2 linked regions of the Homo sapiens genome follow. The protein of the gene in region 2 interacts with the protein of the main gene of each other region in a biochemical or structural test. Each region holds a gene or a part of one and is shown on either strand. Other genes may lie near its edges.

Evidence for each region. The genes of interacting proteins can lie anywhere in the genome.
Region 1: the proteins of RHBDD1 (region 2) and MFHAS1 form a complex in vitro, tested with the Homo sapiens proteins (one large-scale study listed by BioGRID and IntAct).

Annotation. Positions count from the first base shown.
Region 1 is NC_000008.11:8,796,131-8,799,630, forward strand, and holds part of MFHAS1 (malignant fibrous histiocytoma-amplified sequence 1), read right to left. Parts: intron 1,362-3,500; coding exon 1,235-1,361; intron 1-1,234. UniProt on the Homo sapiens protein: Probable GTP-binding protein. Functions in innate immunity and more specifically the inflammatory response as a regulator of the Toll-like receptor TLR2 and TLR4 signaling pathways.
Region 2 is NC_000002.12:226,991,675-226,996,490, reverse strand, and holds part of RHBDD1 (rhomboid-related protein 4), read right to left. Parts: intron 1,061-4,816; coding exon 969-1,060; 3' UTR 1-968. UniProt on the Homo sapiens protein: Intramembrane-cleaving serine protease that cleaves single transmembrane or multi-pass membrane proteins in the hydrophobic plane of the membrane, luminal loops and juxtamembrane regions.

The DNA.
Region 1 (3,500 bases), on a different chromosome or scaffold from region 2:
ACAGGATGAGTGTTATCTAGAATAGTAGTAACCCAATGTTCTATCTGAAAGTTACTTGGCATGTGTGCGTTCTCTGTCTTCAAGTCCATTTTGGGGCAAGGTGGTGGCAAACTGCACAGCCCTTGATTTTCAGGGACTGACTCCGCAATCAGAACCATGCAACAGAAAACGGCCTATTACTGACTTTCTGCAGGCTTTGCTCATGGAATGGGCCTGCGCTGGTTTTTGATGTGAGAGCCAACTTCATTCTGCAATGACAGAGTTAAGACTGCCCGTCAAAAAACTATTTTCTTTTGTAATCCCAGCACTTTGGGAGGCCAAGACGGGCGGATCCCGAGGTCAGGAGATCGAGATCATCCTGGCTAACAGGGTGAAACCCCGTCTCTACTAAAAATACAAAAAAATTAGCCGGGCGCGGTGGCGGGCGCCTGTAGTCCCAGCTACTCGGGAGGCTGAGGCAGGAGAATGGCCCGAACCCGGAAGGCGGAGCTTGCAGTGAGCCAAGATGGCGCCACTGCACTCCAGCCTGGGCGACAGAGCAAGACTCCGTCTCAAAACAAAAAAAAAAAAAAAGGCAAAAAAAGGCCGGACGTGGTGGCTCACGCCTGTAATCCCAGCACTTTGGGAGGCCAAGACGGGCGGATCCCGAGGTCAGGAGATCGAGATCATCCTGGCTAACAGGGTGAAACCCTGTCTCTACTAAAAATACAAAAAAATTAGCTGGGCATGGTGGTGGGCGCCTGTAGTCCCAGCTACTCGGGAGGCTGAGGCAGGAGAATGGGGTGAACCCGGGAGGCGGAGCTTGCAGTGAGCCGAGATCGCACCACTGCACTCCAGCCTGGGTGACAGAGCGAGACTCCATCTCAAAAAACAACAACAAAAAAAATGTTCTTTTTGGTTCCATATACCTGCAAATAAACTGAAAACCAATGAACTGTACACTTAGGTAAGTGAACTGTGGTATGTGAATGACATCTCAAAAAGGCTGTTAAAAAATGTTCTGACTTTATTAGCTAAAGTAAAAAAAAAAAAAAAAATCACAAAAAAGAGGAAATAAAAGTTCCTGTTTTGCTGCATAAATCATGATGCTGATGTCATCCAGAAGAATTATGTCTGTTCAGGAGGACTTTGCAAGGTTTGTGCAGATGCAGTTTAACCTGGATTTTTGTGGTCATATCTATGGAGCTGGGATCAGGAGCCAGGTCCCGGGGCCAGAGGGACTTTGAGAACTCACTTGGAACAGGGGCTGATCACAGTCGGCGTGGGTGGGTAAACCAAGGCAACATTTACTCGCTCGCTGCCGTTCTTGGGGCAAATGATCTCTGCCACTCCTTCCGGTCTGGGCTGACTCAGCAACTCCCCTGTAGGAGGAGAGAGAAAAACGTGTTAGGGAGATGTGCACTAAAAATGGGCTCATTTTACAAAGACAGCACTGCCCGGGGATGGGGGCAGGGGGAGAAGGGCAGAGGTGAAGCAACGAAGGATGTGAGAACAAATGTGCAACCAAGAACAGCAGAACTGCCTGGGCGCCGGCTCCAGCGCCTAAATCCTCCTCTGCGTCACCGTGGAGAAAATTTTCATGGTTATGGCAGGAAGGCCCACACTAGACAAAGACAGCATCTGTCACTGCTCTGCTCACCTTCCTTTTAACAGACTGACTCCAGGGATCTTTATCTAGATATCAACGACTGAGCCAGAGTCCCCAGAGCCCACCGAAGCAAGGGCTGCCAAGGAGGTGTTCATAATTAGGATTTGGGGCAGATGGGACTCAAGCAGACCACAGCAACCATTCAACAAAGCCCTATATAAATGATCTGGAAACACAGCAGACTAAAAGTGTTAAAAACACAAACAGCCTAAGATCAGCCCAGCCTCCTCTGGGCAAGGGGATTGCCCTGATAGGTATGTGTGAAGCAGATGCACGACACAACACTATCTAACGAGTCTAGCAAAAACACATAATTAACCTAATGGATCACCACAATACTTAAAGGAACGCTATTACTCTGCATGCCCTGGATGTAATCTCTCTTCAACTAGATCATTACATCTCTAAAAGCAGTGATGACTTCCATTCTCTCATCCATATACCCAGGGCACCCTGCCCTTTCTCAGAGAGTACTCAAGAAACAGCTCCTGGCTGCAGATGGGACACATTATTGTTCAAACTGCCCTACTTAAACCTAGGAACTAAATTTTTTGTTGTTGTTTTGGAGACAGGCTCTTGGTTTGTCACCCAGGCTGAAGTGCAGTGGCCTAATCACAGCTCTCTGCAGCCTCAATCTCCCAGGCTCAGGTGATCCTCCCACCTCAGACTCCCAAATAGCTGGGACCACAGGTATGCAGCACCACATCTGGCTAAATGTTAACCTTTTACTTTATTTTTGTAGAGACAGGAGTCTCGATATGTTTCCCAGGCTGGTCTCAAACTTCTGGCCTCAAGCAATCCTCCCACCTCAGCCTCCCAAAGTGCTGGGATTACAGGTGTGAGCCACCATGTCTGGCTTCTAGAAAGTCAATTAACCAAATCAAGGATGTGAAATGTACACCAACTGGGGAAAGACACTACTGCAATTACAACTTCAACTCTCTGCACCAACCACTTCTACTGCTGACTTGAAATTCTAGAGACTCCGGGCTGGGCGCGGTGGCTCACACCTGCAATCCTAGCAGTTTGGAAGGCTGAGGCAGGTGGATCACAAGGTCAGGAGTTCGAGACCAGCCTGGCCAATAAGGTGAAACTCCACATCTACTAAAAATACAAAAATCAGCTAGGCATTTGTGGCAGGTGCCTGTAGTCCCAGCTACCCAGGAGGCTGAGGCAGGTGAATCGCTTGAACCCGGAAGGCAGAGGTTCCAGTGAGCCCAGATTGCGCCACTGCACTCCAGCCTGGGCGACAGAGTGAGAATCTGTCTCAACAACAACAAAAAAAAAAAAAGAAAAGAAATTCTAGAGACTCCAAAGAAGAGCAGTCCCCCCTTATCCCTCAGACATGCGTTCCAAGACCCCAGCGGATGCATGAAACCGAGGACAGTACCGAAGACTATACAGACTATGTTTTTGCCTATAAGTAGATACCTATGATAAAGTTTAATTTATAAATTAGGCACAGTAAGAAATTTACAACAATAAATAGGACAATGATAATATACTGTATTAATAATTAAACTTTTATGAATATGGTCTCTCAAAAACTATTATTATGCTGCATTCACATGTATTTGGACCACAGTTGATTGCAGGTAACTGAAATCACAGAAAGTGAAACCATGGATAAGGGGACCACTGTATCTGCTGACGTATAATGATATGAAATTCCTTTGCTTCAAAGTACTGTATTTCTGGCTGGGACAGTGGTTCATGCCTCTAATCCCAGCACTTTGCGAGGCAAAGACGGGTGGATCGCTTGAGCCCAGGAGTTCAAGATCAGCCTGGCCAACATGGTAAAACCCAGTCTCTACTAGAAATACAAAAATCAGCCAGGCATGTTGGCGGGCAC
Region 2 (4,816 bases):
GAAATGCCTTAAACGACTCAGACAGACAATCTGTGGATTGTAACGTGGCGGGGCCCAAGGGCGTGTTTTGGACATTTGGCTAGGACAAGTGGCTGGTACAATGGCCAATTAAGAGGCACTTTTATGAGGAAAAACATACTTTCTGCAAGATAGATCTCTAGTGACCGATCCACCAAATGCCTTCGCTCTACTCTGTATGTGGCATCTGCTGCTACTTTGCTGATGCGTTAAATGATGTCCTATCTCCTGGACACACAAGCTGCCACTGGGAAGGGGCTGGGAACCTACATTGCTGGTGTCACTGATACTAATGGTGTGTGTAGGAGTCTTCCCCACCTTAGGTCTTTCTTACACTTCTTCAATAAGACTTTCTATAAAGGCAGAGCAATACCAGAGCAGAGCGAAAGCCCTGCAAACACCAGCCAGACGCAGGGGCCCGAGGAGCTGAGGAGCTGAGGCGCCGGGGTTGGGGAGAGTAGGACAACATTCGGCCAAGGCAGCCACATCCTGTTCCTGGACAGCCACAGTGGCAATGCGCCAGGAGGACGCGGGGATGGCTCCACACCCGCTGCCAAGTCAAACACGGGGCACTCCAGGCAGAATGAGGGACTAATCTTCCCGACTGGTGTAAGTAAAACCTCCTGGTGAAGGTCACAGTCTTCAAAAGCAGACCGAGGCAGAGGCATCGCTGAGTCAGCAGTGAGAGATGGGAGCGTGGAAACTGGTCTCTTCATGGAGGAAGTGACCTGTTTATGAGCAAGAACAAGGCCAGGAGAAGGCCCACTCCCCGCAAGCTGTGAGTTGACTCATAGGGGCCATGGGACTGTCCCAGGTGATGTGAGCGATCTGGAGCAATACCGGTGTACTCTGCTTTTGTTTAAAATGAATTAAAATGAATTAGGGGCTTGGGGAATGAGCCAAATGGGCAATAATTACACGAATAGGCCATGTCTTCCCAAGATGCCACCTCACTGGCTATCGAATCTGTGAAGCCGCTGTCTCCTCATTTCTTCTGGTGAGAGATGAAACCCGTAGGGTGGTGGGCTATTTCTGGTATTTCCTGTAGTGAGAAAGCCAAAGGAAAAATCAATCATTCTGACGTGACAAGGCATGTGTACCCTAGGATTCCAAGGGAACAAAGTGATAGCTTGGGTGTCATCTTCATTTTAACACAAAACAGAAATATAACAAAGATTTTTCAACTTCAGCTGTCAGTACTAAATTTCAACGTCAAGTAAATATTTTTAGAGTGGTTCAGCCATGAATCTGATTTGACTCATTTTGAGGCTTCTTGATAATCTTCCCACTTGTATTTTTCCTTCCATCGTGCTCCATAATTTGCATCATTTAGGCTTACACAGTATCTCAAGGGCTTATTGTCTTTTTTTTTTTATGCCCATATATAACTTGTTGCCACCTTTACTAACTTCCCCACCAACTAGGCTGGTTTGGCTTCTTCTGATCAGCCTTTGGGTGCTCCTTTTCTTCCCTCTAATGTGCCGCCTCCTGCCCCAATGTGGCCAATAAGAATCATGCGTGATTGAAACACACAAGCAACCACTGGAGCAGAGTTACCATACTGATCAATATCTGGGCAGGTAAACAAAGATGTAGGCATCATATTTCAAGATCATATGAAGGACTGTGGAAATCGTTACTGAAAAGAGTTTCTTAGGGATGCAAACTTACCAAAAACACAGTTTGTAATGATACAAGAATTTCAATCACTACATAAGAAAGCATTCTCCCAGGCATCATGAGTAGTAATAAAGGGAGAAAAATACATAGTCCTTGATCTCAAGGAACCAGCAACCTAAAGGTAATGAAAGAGCTTCAATATTCCCCATGAGGAAACCAGGAAGACACATCACTGATAGATACGGGTAAGTAGAGGTTTACTTCTAAGCATGGGGACCAAAAAGGCTGTACCTTTTCACTACTATAGCTCTGCTAACCTTGGTAATTTGCACTGAAAGGCTCTCTCCCATCACCTACATCAACCAGAAGTCTTACTCACTCTTGTAATGCTAGGTCAACCCCGATAGAACCAATGGAAGAACTCTTCCCAATTCAAACTCTTCAGCTTTCGGCACCTTCCGTTTGTTTGTCTTCATTCAATCATCACCACATCCTGCCAGATGTGTAGGCATTTCTGCACCACTCTGTTCTCTCCTACCAGGATCATAAGCTCTAAAATGGTAGGGGACCCCCTGACCTATCTCCCTCTCCCCAGCATCTGGGACAGTTCTGAACACACAGTAGCTGTTCAATAAATATATGGACTTGACTCAACAGCACCTGCTTATGACTTCCAATGCTGCCCAGTGAGGTTCTGACACAACTCATTGCCCATGAAGGGAACTGCATGGAGGAATTAGAAGAGGCAGACTGGGAAGGTGCCCGCAGTCCAGCTCTCAAAAGCAGCAGCCAGCACACATGGCCTTGGACCCATTTGCAGAACCCAAATGTTCTGGCAGCACTAGCCTGGCTGGGAAGGGAGGGTGGGCAAAGCACAGTTAAGCCAGGAGGGAAAGCAAGTAAACAGTGGATCCCTCTTGCTCATTGCCCAAGAGTGGCACCTTTTCAAAGATGTGTCCATCTATGCATAAGCTGACATGGCAACTGTTAAAACCATAGTGAAAAGATGTTAGAGAAAGCAGTGGGAAACGGAGTCCGTCTTTTCAATCCACAGCTGAAGTTTCCGTTGTCAAAGAGAAATTCAAAAAAGCAGTCAAAGCCAACCCCTTTTTTATATTTTTGCTTCTCTACTGATGAAGATCCCAGTGCTTCCCCATAACTGATTCTCCTTTCCTGTTGAGAGCATGGGAGAATTATACCTCCCCAACCCCTGGTACCCTTCCTGACTAGAACACCCCAAAATAAACACCCCAAAAAACGTTTTTGCCATATGTATTTGTAAAGGAATCTCTCTTTGTTCAAAATGGTAAATGCTTTGAAATTACATATTCATGAATCAAATCACCAGTAGTTGATTGCTTAAAACTGTTTTATATGATGAGATCCAAATTCTCCTTTGCCTTTAACAGTTGTTTTTAAAAAGACTGGTCTTAATTGCACTTGTGAGTGCAGGCCAGGACTTGACACCTCATTCCAGATGGCCTGGGAACTCTGTTAGAACTAGCTGAGGGCAGAGTCAGAAGCAAGCTCGACGTGGCACCCTGACTCCAGGCCACAGGGCAGAAACCCATGGAGGCTGAAAGACTGCTGAGACTCCCAGAGGGAAACACAGAGTCCTCTGGTGTTTTCTTTAGCGTTTCTTCAAAAGAAAAAGCCCGCAGATTAATAATTTCCATGAAGGGAACTGCCTGGAGGAATTAGAAGGGGCAGACTAGGAAGATGCCCGAGGTCCAGCTCTCAAAAGGAGCAGCCAGCACACACGGCCTTGGACCCATTTGCAGGGCATTCGAGGAGAACCAGGGCTGAGCCAACCAAAGAAATGCCACATGCTGAAGTAGAAAACTCATGTCATGAGAAGAATAATCATCACACTCTTCTTTATAAAGCCCTTTCAAGGTACACTTCTCCACTTAGCTTTCACTCCCAATAGAATCATCTCAGTTTTGCAGAAGAGGAAACAGAGGCTCAGAAGGTGTTAGGGACACATCTGAGGTCACTGAGCTAGCATGAAGAACAGCGAACCTTCTGAGTCTTTTCCCACTTCCCCACGTGGCCATCGGTTCTCACACCGCAAGTGTTCAGGGTTGCACCTCTCACCATTCCCGCCCTTCCTGCCCAAACCCAGTGTCCCTTTTCTTCATGGATATGGACATGTGGGAAGCTCACTGCTATCTGAAAACAGAAAAATAAGAAGTTCCAGTCTAAGTTCTCAATTCTGTGGGACTCTGCTGATATCAAAGACGTAACTCTAAAGTTCCCACGTGGGTCTCCTTAAATTCCACTGGCTACTAGCATGGTTCGGCTTTCTAGAACCAAGAAGACCTTGGGTATAACAATACAACCCAAACCACAATAATGCCCGATTTGTAATCATGCCAGCTCTTAAGGGTATTTTAAATCCTTCCAACTCAGTGTTATTGATACAAAAGCCATCTTACTCTCTGAAGAATGGCCGAATTGCTTTGTTTCCAACTCTGAAAACTACACTGTTTTGAATATGAGTTGATCTGAGGAGAATGTTTTTAAGCATAAAAACTTATTTCGAAGAGAATCACAAAGTTGATGTCAGCCCCTAACCTACACCGACTACTGTGTGTGTGCTCTGCGTTGGAGCCACACTCGGCACAAGGCTTCCTGGCTGTCCACTCAGTCTCAGGTACACTCTGTCTTCTACTTCCCCACCTTTGCATTCATGTGTCAAATTGTTTCTATAGTTTCCACTTGTGTCATATGATCTACTACCTCTCTCCTTAACCTCCAGCATCCTTTGCAGGCTTTCTCGAAGGGTCTTATCTTTGTGTTTCTGATATGTACTCACATTTGTTCAGCACACAGGAAAGAATCTGGACAAGCTTCCTTGGGGTGGTAGGAGGTGTCCCCATGAGTGTAAAGGAAAAAGTATTAGTAGGGAATTAGGAGATAGTTTCCCAGCTCTGCCTGGGACTCGTGGAGACACCCTTCACAAGATGCTTCATTTCAGCAGTGTCCAGTTGACTCATACGTGAGAGGAGGCTACTGAAAAAGGGGACTTCCAGGGTCCTTTCCATGATTCTGAAGTTTGACAACCTGTGATTAAATCCCAACTCCTCCACTTTTTAGCTACACAACCTTGAGCAAGTAGGCTACCCTCTTGCTCTTGGTCTTAGTTTCCTTATCTATAAAATGGGAATACTGAGTA